Homo sapiens: one gene and its partners. The protein of the gene in region 3 purifies or fractionates together with the protein of the main gene of each other region. This does not show direct contact. Each region holds a gene or a part of one and is shown on either strand. Other genes may lie near its edges.

The links. The genes of interacting proteins can lie anywhere in the genome.
Region 1: the proteins of TNFAIP2 (region 3) and NHSL3 purify together in Homo sapiens (affinity purification with mass spectrometry, with the first as the bait; one large-scale study listed by BioGRID). This does not show direct contact.
Region 2: the proteins of TNFAIP2 (region 3) and MYO1B purify together in Homo sapiens (affinity purification with mass spectrometry, with the first as the bait; one large-scale study listed by BioGRID). This does not show direct contact.
Region 4: the proteins of TNFAIP2 (region 3) and CRYBG1 purify together in Homo sapiens (affinity purification with mass spectrometry, with the first as the bait; one large-scale study listed by BioGRID). This does not show direct contact.

The regions. Positions count from the first base shown.
Region 1 is NC_000001.11:32,747,292-32,752,657, reverse strand, and holds part of NHSL3 (NHS-like protein 3), read right to left. Parts: intron 1-5,366. UniProt on the Homo sapiens protein: Able to directly activate the TNF-NFkappaB signaling pathway.
Region 2 is NC_000002.12:191,418,866-191,424,231, reverse strand, and holds part of MYO1B (unconventional myosin-Ib), read right to left. Parts: intron 396-5,366; coding exon 272-395; 3' UTR 1-271. UniProt on the Homo sapiens protein: Motor protein that may participate in process critical to neuronal development and function such as cell migration, neurite outgrowth and vesicular transport.
Region 3 is NC_000014.9:103,134,569-103,138,674, reverse strand, and holds the end of TNFAIP2 (tumor necrosis factor alpha-induced protein 2), read right to left. Parts: intron 3,457-4,106; coding exon 3,315-3,456; 3' UTR 2,867-3,314; coding exon of another isoform or gene 2,672-2,866; 3' UTR 1,236-2,671; downstream 1-1,235. UniProt on the Homo sapiens protein: May play a role as a mediator of inflammation and angiogenesis.
Region 4 is NC_000006.12:106,509,679-106,515,044, reverse strand, and holds part of CRYBG1 (beta/gamma crystallin domain-containing protein 1), read right to left. Parts: intron 3,616-5,366; coding exon 2,006-3,615; intron 1-2,005. UniProt on the Homo sapiens protein: May function as suppressor of malignant melanoma. It may exert its effects through interactions with the cytoskeleton.

The sequences.
Region 1 (5,366 bases), on a different chromosome or scaffold from region 3:
TGCAGTGAGCCAAGATCACGCTACTGCACTCCAGCCTGGGTGACAGAGTGAAAAATTAAAAACAGAGAGAAGAAAAGCCTTCTAGGCTGCCTGGCGCTCCCACCTCTGTCTCCTCATCACAGGTGTCCTTGTGCTGAGGGACCTGCCCAGGGCCCCATTGCCTGGGCAATAACTCTTCTTTACCATCACTTCTGCCCTGTCTCTCCAACTAGAGGCAACATGGTAGAGCAGAGAGAGCACTGGGCTGGAAGTCTAGAGCCCTCAGTTCTAGACCCCACATGGCTTATCCTTCCTGCCACCAGAACAAGCCCCTCCACTATACCGTGCTACCTCTTATGCCCGATGGCTCCAGCAAACCCTCTTCCCTCCCTGCAAAATGTGAGAGTCAAAGCTAAACCCAACTCTCTCTGAGGCCCTTCTCTTGCTAGAGTCTCAGGTTGACAACAGTGCAGTCCTTGAAAGGCTGGCAAGTTATTCACCCATAGAAAATATTCATTGAGCATACACTGTGTACCAAGCTGCGTGTACACTTTGCACAGAGAAAATGGTCCTAGTGTCAAAGCTGAAAAAGACCTCGGAGATCAGCTAGCCAATTCCCTGAATTTATATAGATAGGGAAACTGGGGCCCATAAAAAGAACAGTTAGTATGGGGGAGTAGAGGGAATACCCAAGGATAAAGTCTAAATTTCTTGGCATGAATTAAGTGAGGACAGGTATGTGAAGAGGCTCAAAGGATTTCTGAAGTGTGGCAGGTTCCTTGGCCTTCACAAGAAGCGTTGGAGGAGCTGCCCCTGCCCACCAGTTCAGCCTCATCTCCGACCTCATCTCTGAGATGAGAATCTTCTTCTCAGAGCTACAACCACACAAAACTGCTTGCCACCCTCCAGCACACAACTCCAGGCGTTCACACCTGCCATCCCCTCTTCCACCTTGGCCTGAAAGGTGCCTTTTCATTCTCAATGCCCTGCTCTACATGCTGCTCCTCCATGAAGTCTTCCTTGCACCCCCTCTTCCCCCAGCTCAGTGCTTCCTTAATGAAGGCCCCACAGACATTAGTGCTGCCTTCTGATATAGTACTGATCACACCCCAGGGCTCCCCTGCACCCCGTGTTCACCATCCCAGAACTTGCCTTCAGACAATAGTTTTAGTGTCTGCCTTTCCAACCAGAACAGTTTCCTGAAGAGCAGTGATTGTCTGACTCCTTTGAGTAACCCCAGGCTCAGCACATAGTAGGTGTACCTATGTGTTTAATAGAAACTGGTGGAGGTGGAGATGGTGGGGCTTGTAGATTAGCTGTAGTAGCAACGGTGACGCTTGCATACTGACGGAGGTAGTGATGATAGCGCATAAATACTTTCACTGCAAAGGCAGTGCTTGCTCCAGGATCCTGTGGGAGGAGTACTGCCCACTGCCAAGAACACAGGACAGGCTAGGCTAGGACTGGTGGGAAGAAGTAGGTGGTATGGAAGGCATATGGACCAGAACTCCAGGAACCACAAGAATGAGCTGGAATGCCTCGTGACCCTCTTAGAAAATGGTGGGGAAGGCCAGGCACGGTGGCTCATGCCTGTAATCCCAGCACTTTGGGAGGTAGAGGCGGGCAGATCACCTGAGGTCGGGAGTTCAAGACCAGCCTGACCAACACGGTGAAACCCCGTGTCTACTAAAAATACAAAATTAGCCAGGCATGGTGGCGGGCACCTGTAGTCCCGGCTACTTGGGAGGCTGAGGCAGGAGATTCGCTTGAACCTGGGAGTCAGAGGTTGCAGTGAGCTGAGATCACACCACTGCACTCCAGCCTGGGTGACACAGCGAGACTGTCTCAAAAAAATAAATAAATAAATAAAAGGGGCCGGGCGCTGTGGCTCATGCCTGTAATCCCAGCACTTTGGAAGGCTGAGGCGGGCAGATCACAAGGTCAGCAGTTTAAGACCAGCCTGGCCAACATGGTGAAACCCCGTCTCTACTAAAAATACAAAAATTTGCTGGGCATGGTGGCAGGCGCCTATAATCCCAGCTACTCGGGAGGCTGAGGCAGGAGAATCACTTGAACCCAGGAGGTGGAGGTTGCGGTGAGCAGAGATCGCACCACTGCACTCCAGCCTGGGAAACAAGAGCGAAACTCTGTCTCAAAAAATAAAAATGAAAATGGTGGGGAAGACCTCACTTGGCTAGACTTGGAGGAGGGGGTGTCCTAAGCAGACAGGAGGCCTCACTTAGTAATCTCCCTACCAGGAGCCTCCTGGGAATCACGCACTTTGCTACAAGATTCAGGGTTTAAATCCTCTGTGAGCTGAGCTGTCTCTATCGCCCCTTCCATGCCAAGCACAGAGATGGGCACCCTGTGAGTGGGCTGACAGTCTTTTAATGAATCAGCCCCTCAGGACAGTGGAGTACAAGGGCATAGAGTACAGTGGGGTATAACTAACGATGGGGGAGGCGGACAGAGATTTCACTCCTCCTAACCAAGGAAGCTGCAGGGACTTGGCTGACTTCCCCAAGTCTGCCAACGGGCTAGAGGTGGCCTTTGGGTCCGCACAAGGAAGGTGTGTGTCCCTGCTCCTCCAACCCCACCATGTTCACTGTGGCCCAAATAACATACAATGCTTCCTCTTATTCGTTTTCTTTAGCATGTGACAGGCCATGAGCAGCTGAGACAGCTTTGAGGGTCTGGAGAGAGAGGGATTTCCAAGGAGCAAGTGCTGAGGGGAGGCTCTCACTCTGCCCTCTGCTGACAAGAGAATGCAGATTTTTGGGGTCACAGGGCTTGGCCACCACAGTTCAACCCTTGCTAGGAGCCCTGCTTCAGGGACTGCAGGGAGGGTACAGTATGGGGAGAGCACACTGATTGAGAGCCCCTTTCAGGCCCAAGGGGAATTTCCAAGAGAAGGGTGAGGGAGAGAGAGCTGGAAGGAGCCCCTGAAGGTGTTGAGGGGAGGGCAGGGAAGACTCCCTTGGCCTTGCTTCCTTCTCAGCTCTTCACACCCCTAGCAGAGGCACCTCTCTGGGATGCGATTTTCCATTTGAAGTCTGAAGAAAGGAGTGAAGAAGCTGAAGGCCTGGCAGTTGTGGGCTTTTCTTCTGCCTCTGACACTAGATGGCCATGTGAACTTGAGCAAGTCACTTCCTCCTCCGGGCCTCAGCTGCCCCATCTGTATGTACCATGAGGGCTCCCTATGACATCTCGGGCCATGAGCTCTGAGAGTCTAGGATCCGGAGATGCCCATCTCTGGGGGCCCATACTGGAGCATTACCTATCATCCAAGGCCACTTAGCCAGGCCTTGTGCTGGCCAGGGCAGAGGGAAGAGTCTGTCAACCCAGTCTCTGCCCTTCGGGTATTCAAAATAGTGAGGTACAGCAATCCCTGGATCCCACGGAACCCCAGATAGCCAGCTGGTCCCAAGTCCCTAGCACGTGCTTTGCCTGAGGCCAGTGCCACAAACCCTTCAATCCCAGCTTCCTTTCATCCTTCCATTTCAGCTCAAGCGCCACCTCCCTGGGGAAGCCATCCCTGACCTCCCTCAGAGATTGCTGTGCTTCCCCTTGTCACACTTGTTAACCCTTAATTACTTGTTCAGCGTATTTTCCCCCCTATACACACACTCATCGTGAGGTTCATGAGGCCCAGGACTTTGTCTCTCTTATTCATCCCGAGGATAGTGCCTGGTATATAACACTTAGGAAATATCTGTGAAATAAGTGAGTGAGGCTCCCTCTCCCGTCTGGACCCTAGGAAAACAATGTCTATCCTCTCACAGGGGTCTGGGGGAGACAGAGCAGCCACCCTGTCACACTCTTTATTTTTTACATTTCTGGGAAGCCAAAATGTCACATTCTTATTGAGAAACCCCAAACTCCTCTGGGAAACCACTCCCCTATTGGAGGTATCCCATAGCAGAGGGAACTCCGCCCCTATTACATTGGTCCAGGCCCCAGGTAAGGACACTGAGGTGCCCTTTACCCAAGAAGAAAGTGGCTGGAAAAGCATATACTGCCCAACCCCAACTCTCTTAAGCACCTTGCTCTAGGGTCTGGGGACAATAATTTCCCCTGGGAGTATCACAGAGATGACACTGACACCAGGCCCTGAGGGCTGAATAGGAGTTCACTGGATAGCAAAGTGAAGGGGAGCACATTCCAGGCAGGAGAAGCAGCACAGGAACTGACACAGAAGGGGAAAACACATGGGAGTGTTGACTGACGGGCAAACAGACACCATCCTGACCTCAGAAGGGCAAGGCGCCCACGACCCCAGAGACTTGACTCTGACTGCTTTGGAACTATCTAGGCCCCTTCCTCAGCAGAGAGAAATGACATTGTTCATAATGGACTCTCCTTACCCACCTTCCTTTTTTTTTGAGTTTTGAATGAAACTGTTGCCCAGTTGAACTCCCGTCGCCCAGGCTGGAGTACAGTGGCGTGGTCTCAGTTCACTGCAGCCTCCGCCTCCTGGGTTCAAGTGATTCTCCTGCCTCAGCCTCCCAAGTACCTGGGACTACAGGCGCCTGCCACTACGCCTGGCTAATTTTTGTTTTTTGTTTTGAGACGGAGCTTTTTGTTCTTGTTGCCCAGGCTGAAGTGCAATGGCGTGATCACAGCTCACTGCAACCTCTGCCTCCTGGGTTCAAGCTATTCTCCTGCCTCAGCCTCCCGAGTAGCCTGGGATTACAGATGCATGCCACCATGCCCAGCTAATTTTTGCATTTTTAGTAGAGATGGGGTTTCGCCATGTTGGCCAGGCTAGTCTCAAACTCCTGACCTCAGGTGATCCCCTCCCGCCTTGGCCCCCGAAAGCACTGGGATTACAGGCGTGAGCCACTGTGTCCGGCCATAATTTTTGATTTTTGTATTTTTAGTAGAGACGGGGTTTCACCATGTTGGCCAGGCTGGTTTTGAACTCCTGACCTCAAGTGATCCACCTGTCTCAGCCTCCCAAAGTGCTGGGATTACAGGTGTGAGCCACCACGCCCAGCCACCTTACTCCCCTTCCTATGACATCCAGGCCACTGGGTCTCAGTGTCTTATCTGGCTGGCTGGAGGTCAGCTCTCCTTTCCTGGACACAGCTCCCATCTCCATGCCTAGCCCCCAGCCCCTACAGGCTTGCTCCCTCAGCCCATTCTCAAACTCACAGAATCCTAGAACTAGCAAGAGTCTCAGAGGCCATTAAACCCCATCTTTGTCGGCCAGTCGCGGTAGCTCACGCCTGTAATCCCAGCACTTTGGGATGCCAAGGCGGGCGGATCATGAGGTCAGGAGTTCGAGACCAGCCTGGCCAATATGGTGAAACCCCATCTCTACTAAAAATACAAAAATTAGCCAGGCACGGTGGCACTCACCTGTAGTCCCAGGCTGAAGCAGAAGA
Region 2 (5,366 bases), on a different chromosome or scaffold from region 3:
CACAGACCTAACATGATGACTAAAGGAAGAACACATCAGACATGAAAATAGACACTGTTAGTTTCTACAATCCTGCTCCAGGACAGAACATGTATTTGAAAGGTTAAAACTATTCCAATAATAAAAATTGATTAGTCAAATATTTTTATTTTGCCAAAGAACTCTAAAAGCCTTTGGTGATTCCCAAACATACAATGAACCCCAAATAAAACAAAACCAAATTGCACTATTACAAAGGAACAAGTCCATGAAAGTAGAGAGGAGGCGCCAGTTAAGGGACAGCAACTTCAAGGAGACGGTTGTTTTTTCGTTTACATGTTGGGACACTCCCATTTTTCTGGTTTCCCTGAATAAACTTCACACATACTTTGTCCTGTCTGAACTGTACCAGGAACCTAGGAGAAAAGAATAAAACAAATTAAAGTATACACAAAACAGCTCATGATTACAATAACACTTGCTTTTGTATTTTAATGGATACTGATCTTGACGAGTACAGGCTGCGCATCCCTAACCTAATCCGAAAATCTGAAACCTCCAAACTCTGAAATGTTTAAAGCACTGACATGATGCTTAAAGGAAATGCTTGCTGGAACATTTCAGATTAAGACTGAAACATTAAGTATAATGCAAGTACAGTCTATGGGCTACCTAACAACGTTTCAGTGAACAATGAACCACATATATGATGGTGGTCCCATAAGCGCGGAAAAATTCCTATGGCTTAGTGACGTCATAGCTCTCCTAATGTAGGGCAATACACTACTCATGTTTGTGGTGACTGATGTAAACATACCTAATTCACTGTCAGTCATATACGATGGGGGTCCTATAAGATTATGATGGAGCTGGCCTATACAGTCGTACCATTTTTTTGTCTTTTATACTGTATTTTTACTGTACTTTTTCTGTTTAGATAGACAACTATTTACCATTGTGTTACAATTGCCTACAGTATGCAGTACAGTAACATGCTATAAACAGTTGGCTATACTATAATATACAGCCTATGTGTGTAGTAGGCTATACCATCTACGTTTGTGTAAGTACACACTCTATGATGTTTGCACAAAATCACCTAGTGACACACTTCTTAGTACACATCCCCAAGTTAAATGACACATGACTGTATTCCAAAACAAGAAACTGGGAACACTTCTTGTCCCAAGCATTTCGAATAAGGGAGACTCAACCTGTATCACTTCTTCCCATGAGCACTTCTTACACAGAATTGTATCAATGCAATTTACCTCCAGTAGTCCTCATTTAGCCCTAAGAAAACTAAAGTTCATTAACTCATCATATTCTAGTAAGGTAGAAAGGCTAAGAATTATTTCTGTGTTTCAAATGGAAAGACCAACAGGTTATATTTCCATTTTTCCACGGCAAAAAAAAAATATGGGAGGGGGCTCCTATTAAATTATCAACAAATTGAGAAAATGAGGTAAAGAATTTCACAAAAGGAAGGGGCCTGGCAACCCTCTAGTCTATGGCTTCTAAACACTGGTTACTCACATATGTCCTACATAGTTTTTGTCGTTATCTGCATAGTATGCTAATAGCTATTGCTAGCTTAAATGTATTTCAAAATAATAGTGACCTACAGAATATGCATAAAATCATGTGTTTGATCTACCACATATATCTTTAATACCCATTAAAATATTTATATAAAAATTATAAAAATTTAAAAAATCCATTAGTGTATAGAAATTAATTCATGGATTAAAAAATCCATTAGTGTATTTTTCCCTCAGTGTATCATGTGGACCACTGCTGGGATAAGAGATGACTTTAGGTGTACAATTGAGCATCCACAGAGGGTTCTTCACACCATCCCTGTGCTGGTGCTGCGAGGAACCCCCAACTGTATATGATGAGATCCCTGAACTGAGGATAGCATCACTGGGGGACATGAGAGCTGCATCGCTGGGCCAGAAACCAGGTCTTCCAGTTCCAAAACCAGTGATCTCTTCTCTCTACCCTCATAATTAGCATAGCATTATGACATTTTCCATATTCTCAGGGATGGTTTTCTCAGTCAATGGCACATTACTAAAGTGAGTCAACCTAACAACCACTGACCACTTACTGACATCCCCCAGCGATGTGAGGATCCACAGCTCTGCTCTGTATCCATTAGTTTCAGTTTCAAGGTCTAAAGAGGCCACATTTTGCAAACATTATCTGCTAGAATGAAACAAGGCAAATGTGTTTCTAATTCATCAGTTGTTTTATAAGGATAGTGCTTCTGATCTTTTAAATGGGTTCTTCATTTTCAACTTGAAAGCAATGAGGAAAGGACAGCTATAGTTCCAGATTCAACTACCTGAGATATATCTCTGGCATATATACTTGTATGTATGTGTCTCAAAAAAAATCTTTCAGGTTTATTGAAAATTCACACATTTTAAAAATCAAACACTTTCACATTTTTATTTTCAAAGACCACTTGTGGCTGGGCACAGTGGCTCATGCCTGTAATCCCAGCACTTTGGGAGGCCAAGGCAGGCAGGTAACTTGAGGCCAGGAGTTCGAGACCAGCCTGGCCAACATGGCAAACCCACGTCTCTACTAAAAATACACAAATTAGCCAGGGACGGTGGTGCATGCCTGTAATTCCAGCTACTCGGGAAGCTGAGGCAGGGGAATCGTTTGCAGCTAGGAGGCAGAGGAGGCTGCATTGAGCCGGGATCACACCACCGGACTCTGACCTGGGTGACAGAGGGAGACTCTGCCTCAAAATAAATAAAAAAGACCACTTGTAAGTGTAATAAATGTATAGGAACTTCTTTCCCCAATAACCTTGGCCTACATTAACTGTTTCCATGTCTATAATTCCTGATTAATATTCACACTAGAGGCCAGGCACGGTGGATCATGACAGTAATCCCAGCACTTTGGGAAGCTGAGGTGGTCGGATCACCTGAGGTCAGGAGTTTGGAACCAGCCTGGCCAAGACGGTGAAACCTCGTCTTTACTAAAAATACAAAAATTAGCAGGGCGTGGTGGTGCATGCCTGTAACCTCAGCTACTCGGGGAACTGAGGCAGGAGAATCCCTTGAACCCAGGAGGCAGAGGTTGCAGTGAGCCGAGATCTCGCCACTGCACTCGAGCCTAGGCGACAGAGCAAGACTCTGTCTCAAAAAAAAAAAAAAAAAGATTCACACTAGAAATAACAATAGGCAAGATATATTGAGGATTTGCTACATACCACACTGTGCTTGGCCATTTACTATGTTATTAGATCAGGCTTTAAGACAATCCTAGGAGGTAAGCACTATTATTTATCTTCACCTCATAGAAAAGAGAAAATCCTCCTCCAACAAACAATAACATGGAATGTATTATTTCATGGCATTCATACCAGTTAGAATTTCAAGGTAAAAGGAACATGGATTAGTTGTTTGGATTTCAAATATTCAGAAAACCAATTGTATAACTTAAATGATATATGTGTATCTATTGTACACACGTGTATACCTATATGTATATACACACACATATATTTAAAATGTTTAATGAAACAAATTCACTTTAGTTTTTACTCTATTTGGGAACTTGATTTTAGAAATATAGTCATGCATCATCTAATAAAAGGGATACATTCTGAGAAATGCATCACTAGGTGATTTTGTCATTGTGCAAACATCATAGAGTGAGTGCATTTACCCAAACCTAGATGCTACAGCGTGTTATTGTACTGTAGGTAACTGTAACACAATGGTATTTGTATGTGTAAACTTAGTAAGAATAGAAAAGGTACAGTAAGAATAGCATAAAAGATAAAAAATAGTGTACTTGTCTAGCGCCCTTACCATGAATGGGGCTTGCAGGCCTGGAAGTAGCTCTGGGTGAGTCAGTGAGTGAGTTGTTAGTGAATGTGAAGGCCTAGGACATTACATTACGGTATACTTTATAGGTAATTTTTTCTTTCTTCAATAATAAATTAACCTTTGCTTACTGTAACTTTTTGCTTTATAAACTTTACAATTTTAAAAACATTTTTGACACTTTTGTTTTGTTTTTGAGGCAGGGTCTTGGTCTGTCTCCCAGGCTGGAGTTCACTGGAGCAATCATGGCTCAGGGCAGCCTTGACCTTCCCGGGCTCAGATGATTCTCCCACCTCAGCCTCCTGAGAAGCTGGGACTACAGGTGTGTGTCACCATGGCTGGCTAATTTTTTAATTTTTTTGTTGAGAAGGGGTTTCGTCATGTCGCCCAGGCTGGTATTGAACTCCTAAGCTCAAGCAATCCACCAGCCTTGGCCTCCCAAAGTGCCAAGATTACAGGCGTGAGCCACTGGGCCCGGCTGTTTTTTGGCTCTTTTGTAATAACACTTAGCTTAAAACACAATACTTTGTATAGCTGTACAAAAATATTTTCTTTATAACCTTATTCTATAAGCTTTTCTCTATTTTTAAAATTTTAATTTTTTTTATTTTTACTTTTTAAACTTTTTGTTAAAAACTAAGATACAAACATATTAGCCTAGGCCTACACAGGGTCAGGAGCATCAATTTCACTGTCTTCTATCTCCATGTCTTGTCCCACTGGAAAGTCTTCAGGGGTAATAATACACATGGGGCTGTCTTCTCCTAAGATAACAATGCCTTCTGAAATACCCCCTTAAGGACCTGCCCGAGGCTGTTTTACTATTAACTTTTTTAACATGTAGGCATACACGCTAAAATAAAGATAAAAAGTACAGTATAGGCCGGGCGTGGTGGCTCACGCCTATAATCCCAGCACTTTGGGAGGCTGAGGCGGGCAGATCACAAGGTCAGGAGATCGAGACCATCCTGGCTAACACGATGAAACCCCACCTCTACTAAAAGTACAAAAAATTAGCCGGGCGTGGTGGCGGGCAGCTGTAGTCCCAGCTACTCGGGAGGCTGAGGCAGGAGAATGGCATGAACCCAGGAGGCGGAGCTTGCAGTGAGCCGAGATCACGCCACTGCACTCCAGCCTGGGCAACAGTGCAAGACTGAGTCTCAAAAAAAAAAAAGTATAGTATAATAAATACATAAACCAGTAACAACATCATTTATTATCAAGAGTTACATATTGTACATAATTGTATGTGCTTTTACTTGTAGACAACTGGCAGTGAAGTAGGTTTGTTTACACCAGCAGCAGCACAAACATGTGAGTAGTGCCTTGCACTATAACATTACAACACCTGTGACATCAATAGACAGAAGAATTTTTCAGCTCCATTACAATCTTAGGGGACCACCGTCATCTGTGCAATCCATTGCTGACCAAAATGTCATTATGTGGTGCATAACTGCATTACACATCTTGCAGGTTATCCTTAAAATGCAATCTAGTTACACATTGAACAGCTTAGAAGTTTAAGGACTA
Region 3 (4,106 bases):
GCAGGAACAGCAGGAACCTCCAAGGCGCCGCCCGCACCCTCTTCCTCCTCGCCTGGGGCCTCGCGCCCGGAGCCCGCCCCTCTGCCAGGGGTGGACGCAGCCCGGGGAGGGGGGTCCACCTGGCCCCAGGTCCCGCCGCGCTCCGACGACTCGGCCCGCCCTGGCCGCCGCGAGGCTGGGGGTCACTTTGGGACCTAAGTCCGCCCCCGTGGGAGAATGTGTGCCAGGGCCCACTGACAGCTTCCATCGGGGCTCAGGCGCCATCTCTCCCCACGTTTGCCCAGGGTCAGGGGGCCATGCAGGGGAGAGTCGCGCTGCCCCCACTTCCCCCTGACCCTGTGCTCCGAGGAGAGGAACGGGAACTCGCCCGCCCAAGGCCCACGCTCCCCACGTGGCTCAACCAGGCCAGGACCTCGCAGCCACATGGACCGGCGGGTCCAGGAGCCGGGCAGAGGGTCTCCGTGCCAAGCCGCACTGCCCCTGGCCCTCGTCTCCCTCCTTTCTCTCACTGCACGGTGGCCTCATGCCATCCGCTTTGGCCCCAAGAATGGAACTCAGGAGAAAGGGCCTGCCCTCCCCCACCCCCAGCTCCGGGCTGTCCCAGGCCCTGCTGAAGCCCACACCCCTCTTCAGGTGCACACGGCTCCCCTTGGGGCCCTCCCCGGCCTCTGTGCAACGTTCATCAAGGTACCCTTCTTCCCTTCCAGGGACTCTGCTCCTTCCCAAATTCCAGGCCAGATTGGCTGCGGAGAGGCCCACCCTTCCGTGGCAGCTGAGCCCGTCTCTGAATACAAACCAGACCTCCTGTGTCCACAGCTGTAGCTTTCAGGTCAATGCCAGCATGGTAAGAGTCAGTTCCCACTCTGTGTCCCGTGCATGCGGTTGAAATGGCTGCCCCGTGTCCACCCCACCCTCTTCCTCAGTAAAGGACGGTGGAGGAAGCCCCAAAGGGTCACAGTCCCCTTTTTACAGATGAGGAAACTGAGGCACGGAAGGGTGAAGTGACTGTCCATGCCCTACAGGCAGACACTTCCAAAGCTCCTGCTCACAGTGAGGGGATGGTGGGCCATCTCCTGCCTGGACCACATGAGGTGCTCTGGGGGCTGGGACAGGCTGGGGATTGACACAGAACCTAGGTAGGTTTGCCCGGACCCCTAGAGGCTCAGAAAGCTGCTAAGGCTGCCTGGCTGGGCCCCCCATCATTGTGCAGCTCCCAAAATAAATCACTCCACAGCCACTTTTGAATTCTGTTTTATATCAAGCTATAAAAACCTGGATCCTGTTCAACATACATACAAAAGCAGTACTCTAAAAAATAATTATTATTATATTAACAATATCAAACACGCTAACTCCTACACACGTACAAAGACCTTGGGCATCCTTTATACCGGCCACTTCCTGGCCACAGCTTTGTAAGGCAGTACCTGGGAAAAGGGGACGGACCCAAGAGAGCCGGCCCCAAATCCTGACTCAGCACTGCAGAGGCATCAGCCGGGCTGAGTCATGCCTGAGTCCGAAGGGCCCCCTCTCAGGCTGAGAAGGAACTTTCAGGCCCAGGGAGGAGCAGAGCCTTAGGGGGAGCACATGCCGAGCAGGAAAACGAGCTCACATTTTCCTGGGGTAGAGCGAGGTGCCCGGCAGGGCAGGGGATGAACGGAGGGTGCGGTGGGCAGAATAACGGCCTCCCAAAGATGTCCACGTGACAGTCCCCAGAGCCTGTGACTATGTTAGGTTACACAGCCAGTGGGAACTAAAGTTGCAGATGGAACTAAGGTGGCTAATCAGCTGACCTGAAAATAGAAAGACGACCTGGGTTCTCTGGGTAGGCGCAATGTGATCATAAGCGTCCTTAAAAGCGGTAGAGCAGGCCGGGTACAGTGACTCATGCCTATAATCCCAGCACTTTAGGAGGCTAAGGCTACAAGATCCCTTGAGCCCAGGAGTTCCAGACAAGCCTAGGCAACAGAATGAGACCCTGTATCCACAAAAAATATGTAGCTGGGCGTGGGGGATTGTCTCAGGGGACTGAGACAAGAGGATCACTTGAACCAGGAGGTCCAGGCTGCAGTGAGCCTTGATGCCATGACCAGGCCACTGCACTCCAGCCTGGGCAACACAGCAAGACCCTGTCTCAAAAAAAAAAAAAAAAAAGTGGTGGAGGGAGGCAGGAGAGGGGAGGCCTCAATGAGGTGACGGGAAAAAGATTCAACTACCCACAGCTGGCTCTGAAGATGGAGGAGCCTGAAGTCAAGAATTACGGTCAGCCTCTAAAAATGAAAAGGCCAGAAATGAATTCTCCCCTAGAGCCTCCAGAAGGAGTGCAGGACTGCCGACACCCAGATTTGAGCCCCGGGTCAGCCTTCTGACCCGCAGAACTGGAAGACCTCGTTTTGATCCACGAAGTTTGTGGAAACCTGTCACGGCAATAGGAAACAAATACAGAGGCCAAAGGGTCAACAGTGAGAGGTCAAGCTTGCCCTGCCCCTGCCCAGACCTCAGCCAGACTTCTGGGTGGCAGGGCCCACGGTGGCACCCCCAGGGCCTGTCCCTGCCTTGGGGAAGGGGGAGCCTGAGAGGACCCAGGAGGTCTTGGGCCCTTCGGTAGTAGACACCAAGCCCTCGGGGGACCACCCTCTAGTTGAGGCCTTGGGGGATGAAGAGGGAGGGCTCAGGGCCCCATTGCAGGGCCAGCCTGTAGGGGCCGTGGGGCCACCTGGATGTGACGTCTAATGCTGGCGGTGCTCACAGCTCGCCACAGGACCCTAAAAGCCCCTGCCAGACGAGAGCTCATCTTTTCCTTCTTTCTCTTCCAGTTCTGTCTTCCATTCCACCATTGCTGAATCCCGCTCACGGCGGCCCTGGGCTGCAGAGGGCAGATGGGTGAGGCTCGGCCCCTGTCTCCAGAGAGCTGAAGAGGGCCCTCGGCCCCACCCACGAGGAGGACAGTCATGAGGCCGACTGTGGAGGGGCTCTGGACAGAGGTGTCCGGGGATCCCTGAGCCTGGCTGCACTCTCCCTCCTGGTTCTTTCCTTGCGTGCACACGATCAGCTATCGTTTACAAAGAGTCCTTGGTGTTGCCTGGTTGGCTGCCCAGGATGGGAGCTCCTGCCCCCATCGGACATGTAAACAAACCAAGGTCTGTCCAGTTCCAGCTGACAGGGCCTGCACCTCCGCCAGGGCTAGGCAGAAGTAGCATCAGAGCACAGGAGACCCGGGAGGAACCGAGAACCAGCGCTGCTCTTAACAGCTCCCAGCGGGGTGTGCCCAAGGCTTGCTGGGCACTCACAGGCAGGTCAGGCCACAGGAAAAGCTAACCAACCTTTATAAGGGAAAATAGGGGCCGGGAGGGCTCCTGCGCCCCCATGCTGACGTCCAAGATGCTCCGGATGCGCTTGACCTCACTGTTGGATAGGTTCCCCTTGATGGCCAGGATAGCGCTCAGGTGGCCTTTGCTGGCAAAGAGAGCATCCTGTCAGCCCAGCCTGTCACCCACACCCCTACTCACCAGCTCCCTGCACTCCCGGCCAGTGCCACAGGGCCCGACAGCCAACGCCCGGCCCACGAGGGGGCTGCACTTCACTCTCCCTCACCCATGCCCTCCACCTGATGGTCCCAAGAGCAGCCATGCCCCAGCCTGCTTCAGGCCTCCGCACCGGCTGTTCCCCTGCAATGTTCTTCCCAGGCCCTGAGATGACCGCCTCTTCCCACCCCTTAGGTCTCCGCTAAGATGTCCACCCCCAAAAGGCTTTCTTGTCTCTAAAGTCGGCACCTCCTATCATTCACAACCTTGGTTAAACCCTATTTACAACTTGTAATTGTCTGTTTCTTTGCCTGATTATGTCATTAGTATTGCTGGCCCTCAACAGAATGAGCTACTTAAGGGAGGACTGAGACCTGGCTTCCCTTGTACTTCATTGCATCCTGGTAACTAGAACAGAGGCTGACACCTAGCAGACTTCTCCATAATTGTTGGTGGCATAGGTAGATGGATGGTGGGTGGGTGAGCAGATGGATGAGAGCTAGATGGGTGGAGGGATGGGAGCATGGATGAGTGAGTAGATGCATGGGTGGATGGGTGGGTGGGTGAGTGGTTGAGTGGATG
Region 4 (5,366 bases), on a different chromosome or scaffold from region 3:
AGTCTCAAATTGTTTTAAAGAATAATCTGATTAACATCTTGCGATACGGTCATAGGAAGAATTAAAGGGTCTGAAAAAACCATCAGTCACAAAGAAATGGGTCAAAGGACTAGAAATACTTATTAATTTTTAAGTCAATAATTTGCCAAATGACCATGTGCAAGGCACTGCGCAAAACAAATACATTGAATGTCTGGTAAAGAAAATTTTTAGGTATAAATTAATCAGAACTGGGAAAGACATATTTGGTTTAGTTCTATTACAGAGAACAGCAAACGAAGAATTTCATTATAAGATCATCTTTCCTGTTTGTTTAGCCTACTATTTCACAGTGTAACATTTCTGGTTTTTCTACTGGTGTCTTCTAATTGGAAGACAGGTGAACCATCCTTCATAAGGTACACAGCAATGTTTCTCTAAGGCTCACATTTAGGAGGCTTTAGCATTCAATCACACTGGTCTTCTATAAATAATAGGCATCATTCACCCAGCTCATTTCTCTGATGCTACCTACCATCACAGAATAAATCACTGACTATATCAAAGGTCTCCAGGTTGGCAGTTGGTGAGGTAGTCAAGTTATTCATTACGCATACTTCCCTCTCAGAGTTCTCAGAGTTCTCCCAATCAGAACTCTCCTCCTCTTAAGCTTACTTATCCAAGAAATCAAATAGAATGAAAGAAACCATTAGGTTCAAGAATTATAATGATAATGTTGTTAAAATACCCACTCCTTGAACAAATATGTGAATGGAGGAAAAACTTAAGCACTTAATCATTATTCACCTGTGCTAAGTGGGAGTGGTGAGGGAGCAGAAGTGTGAGAAGGGAGGGTCTTATCAGTTTCATAGAGTACCTTCCCTATCCTGTCCACCTATACAAATTGCATTTATCATCAAGGCACAAGGCCCAGCTCCCCCAAAGCACCAGCAGTGATTTCTTGCTCGCTAGCACTTCCCCAGGATTTACAGATGGTAACATTCGTTTGGCAGTTTCATCAGATATCATCTTGTATTGTTATTTGATTTGTGTGCTTTTTGTGTGCCAGATGGGGCTATAAAAATTTCAGGGCAATATCCTGAGTCACAGTTGTAGGGTTTTTTTCCCCCACAGTGACTAGCACAATATCTTGCACAGAAAGTATTAAATAAATTACTTGTGAAATGAATAAACTTAACAGCAAGTAGTCACAGTTGTTTTGTGCTTTCATGCAGCACAAGGAGGAAGAAGCAACCAAGATACATAAATTAGGGACTTTTTGAAAAAGGCTTAGGCCAATAATGCACTAAGTTCCATAAAATGTTTTGGAATTATCTTAAACTCACACCTGTCACAGCTGCTTTCATGTAGCAAATAATCTTCCAGTAAGAACACTGATCTTTATTTCAGTAACTGAAAACTACTTTTCAGCCTGGGTCCAAAAGTATCACCAGACTCCCTAACATTATAAAGGGGAAGAAGCAACCAAGATACTTGTATTAGGAACTTTTCTTGTGTGTTTTTAAGCTTTTTGCCAATAAATGCACTGAGTGCCATAAAAGGTTCTGCAAATTCTCTTAAAACTCACACATGTCAAAGCTACTGGATCGTATTTAACATGTTACTGTTTGCTCCATATTTTGAAATTCACAGCACATGCATTTTAAGAACATCCCACCTTGGAACACCCTTGTACATTTTGAATAAAGAATAGAATCAGCTCATGTCAGGCCATGAGGTCTTATCTCTCATCTACATAAACGTTGAGCTTCAACGGATATCCTATTTTTACATTCGTTAAACTTAAATCTTGTGTTAAAAAGGGAATTAACTGAGGAGGCTGCCACAGGTGTCATCTTAAATCTTGACTGTGTAAACTGGCCCTTCACTATCTTAAGTTCAGCATGGAGGGGAAAGTTCAGTGACCAGACGTTTCTTCCACAATGCAGATACCCCGAGCCTCTCAGAGCGGACCCCCAGCACGTGTGCGGACAGCAACTCGGCCGGGACTTGCGCGGCTACTTACAGGGTCACTTTAGTGGTCACTGTCGACCTGCCCACGCCGAAATGGTTCCTGGGCTTCAAGCCGTCGGCGTCAGAAGCTCCAGGCGCTCCGGCCGCTCTGCCCAGCTCTCTGCTTCGACCTCCCTCTGCCCGGCCGTTGAAGTGGTTGGGGAGCGGGCCCCTCTTGTGCTCGGGCTTGATCTCCGGCAGCAGCGAGCTGCTCTTGACCGGGAGCTCGCGGGGGATGGCCCGCGCCGCCTCCTCCCCGCTCTCGGCCGCAGTGCCCTTGGTGACTGGGCTGGGATCGGGCACCCTCTTGGGTGGGGACTCCTTGGCGGGAGCCCGGGGGCCGCTGGCGGGCGGGGCGGGCACGGCCTCGAGGGCACGGCTCCTGCCCTTCCTCTTCGTGGGGGACGAAGCCGGGGGTGGCTGTTTGCTCCGGTCCGACTCCCCTCGGAGCTGCCCTTTGGTACCGGGGCTGGGCTTGGACTCTGGGCTCGCAGCGGAGGCAACGCCCCCGTCGAGGGCTGCCCGCGGAGATTTCACTTTCTTTTCCGCCGAGGCGTTATCGCTGGCCGCGTTTGGCGCCACCTCGTCGTCGAACACCGCGTCGTCCCTGGCAGCGCTCTCAGGGAGCTCGGCGTCCGCGCCGGGGGAGTCGGTGGATTTCTGCGACCCCCTCCGCCTCCCCGACCTACGGCCGCTGGACCTCTTCTCCATGTCGTCCCAGTCACCGCAATCTTCCGCTCTGGGAGTAATCACGACCGGCTCGTCCACTTGTGCCCCCTCAGTCTTACTCAAGTAGATGTCCAAAGTTAGCACCTTAGCAGGGTGGGCGTGACCCTTGGGGCGGGCTGTGCAGTCTGCCTGCGCGGAGCTGGCCGTGTGCGCTGCGCCCTCGGCCGGAGGCTCACCTGGCAAATCAGACGCGCCCTTGGGGGGCTGGCTGCGGGCGTTGCGGGGCCCCAGGGAGCCTTCTTCGGCACACACACTGGGGGCTCCGTTAGGGGCCTCGCCTAGTCCTCCCGCGGGCCGCTCCTGGGTGGGCGACCCTGGCGCACCCCTCACACCCAGGAAAGCCTCCTGTTCGTGGCCAGCACCTGGTGAAGCGTCCTCCCCCGGACTGCGGGCGGGCGTCTCTGCGTTCTCTTGCCTGGAGGAATTTCCCGGCGAGGAATGCAGCTGCTTGGCAGTGGTGGTGGCATCTGGGAAAGGCTCTCCCTCTGCCTCCAGAGGTTCTAATTGGGGTGAATCATTTTCATGGCACTGCTGCACAGCCACAGCCGCTGCACTGCTGCTCCAGCGAGGTGACAGCTCGGCGTCAGGGGGGGCTGCGGGGCCACCGCTCTCGGGGAGCTCGCCCTCTGCCTCTCGGGGATTCTCCCGCGGGGAGCCCTCCTCGCTTGTGTCCGTTTGCTTCAGTTGGCTGCTCTGAGATCTGCTCCTCTCACTCTCTCTCTCTGGGAGCTTAGGAGAGGCTACCACATCTTTGGGAGAGAGTGGTTTGGCATTTGATCTGGTGGGACTCTCTAACCCGTTTCTACTGTTTCTTCTCCTTCCTGCAGTGAATAGAGTGCCAAGTTTCCCCAAAACTGGCTTCCTTCTGTTGTCTTCTGGAGGTTGTGCTCTGGACTGAAAAATAAAAGGGATGAGGAGGGAACATATGAGAATCTGGTGTTTTTCCCCTTAGACGTACATTACAGAACCACCAGCCAAAATGATAACAGACCAGAGTTTCTAATTGAAAATGATAAAGTTATGTTTATGTTACATTCATTCCAACAAAATAAACTCTGGTTTTACTTTTGAATTTTGCTTAAACACCTTAAGTTTCTGGCAGTAGTCAGAATAGCATTTTCTTTGAATTATAATTCTTGTTTTTTAAAGGAAAATTTGAACGGTCCAAATAATCACATATACAAAATAAATAGTTCCTTGCCCTCTCTAGGTTTTTTACCTTCTTCCTCAATAAAGATGCAATTTATAAACAGCCGTGCATGTGACCATGGGGCAGCAGTAAACACACTAAAGTATCCTAAGGCGGACTTTTTCCCGAAACACCGCCCATTCTTTTTGTAGGAGGGAAGGAGGACGAAGAAAAAAAACCAGTCCTAGCAGCCTTCTCCTCCAGAACAGTAAGAAGCCACCTGGGTTCAACATCTAGTACTTGCAACATGAAAACCTTAAGCAAGCTCGGAGGAAGCAAGCACCTGGGCCCCGCCTTAGCCGGAGCTCCAATGGGAGGAGCGCGCGAGCGTTCAAACACCCGAGTGATCCCGCGGCTGCAGAGCGCATCGGAAAGGCTTTTGCCTGTGGGAGTTCCTACCATGTGAACACGGAGGAGTGCGTGGGGGTAGCGGGCGAGGTTGCAGGGGTGACCGCCTTTGCTCACCGCCCCCTAGAGCCGAGGAGGTGTGGCTGAAGGATGCGCTTGGGACTCTGCCTACTCCGCCCCGGGACCCGTTCCTCGCCACACGTGTGGTTCCGGGGTCGCACGGCTGGAGCCCCAGGGGCCGGCCCACCTATGCGAGGGTGCCGGGCCGCCTGCGAATGATCCGCAGCGCTCCCAGGAAGGGGGAAAACCTGGGCTTCTTATATCTCCTGGAGCAAAACGGCTAGCATCCAGTGCCCGCGCCAGAAGGCGGGAGGGAGCGCAGAACAAACCAATAAAAGCAAACCCGCCAATGGGCGCGGTGGCGCTCCGGGGTTTGCCAGAGTGGGGACTGGGTAGGTGCGGGGCATAGAGGTGGGCAGGAAGAGGAGGAGGCGAGCCTGGGAAAGCGGGGGAGCAGGGGCGGCGAGCCCAGCCTGGCTCCTAGGAGAGGGAAGTGTATTTGCGTAAGGACTCCTCTGAAACCAGGCCAAACGTGCGGCTACTGTATTTCTTAAGAATCAACTTTTAAACATTCAAAACCTAGGTGCTAGCTTGAGTCCTGGCGACGCAGGAAAGAGCCCCACCTTTCCTGGAAAAGGAACATTCAGGACAGTACCGACTACGGGGAGGTTCCCCAATCACCCTTTGAAGCTCCATTGCGTTTGAGTTACATGCAGCAAATGGACTTTGGCGATGGGAAATAGGAAAGATAACGCATGAAATTAACAGGTCAACAAGCATTTGTTGAGACAGTCCTGGTACTGTAACATAGTGTCACCCCGCTACAGCCCAGTAAGGTCATGCTGTTACCACACAGATGAGGAAAGGAAGCTCAGCCAGCCTATAAAGAGACACAAAATTGGGGTGGGGGGGAGAGGCGGTCAGAGCAGTAAAGTCAGAATTCAAATCCAAGTCGCCTCCTGCCCACCCCATGCTCCTTCCATTCAGCCACAGGGGCCCCTTTCAGAGGCCGCGGAGGTTCTGCCGCCACCCGAGAACCACAGTCGGC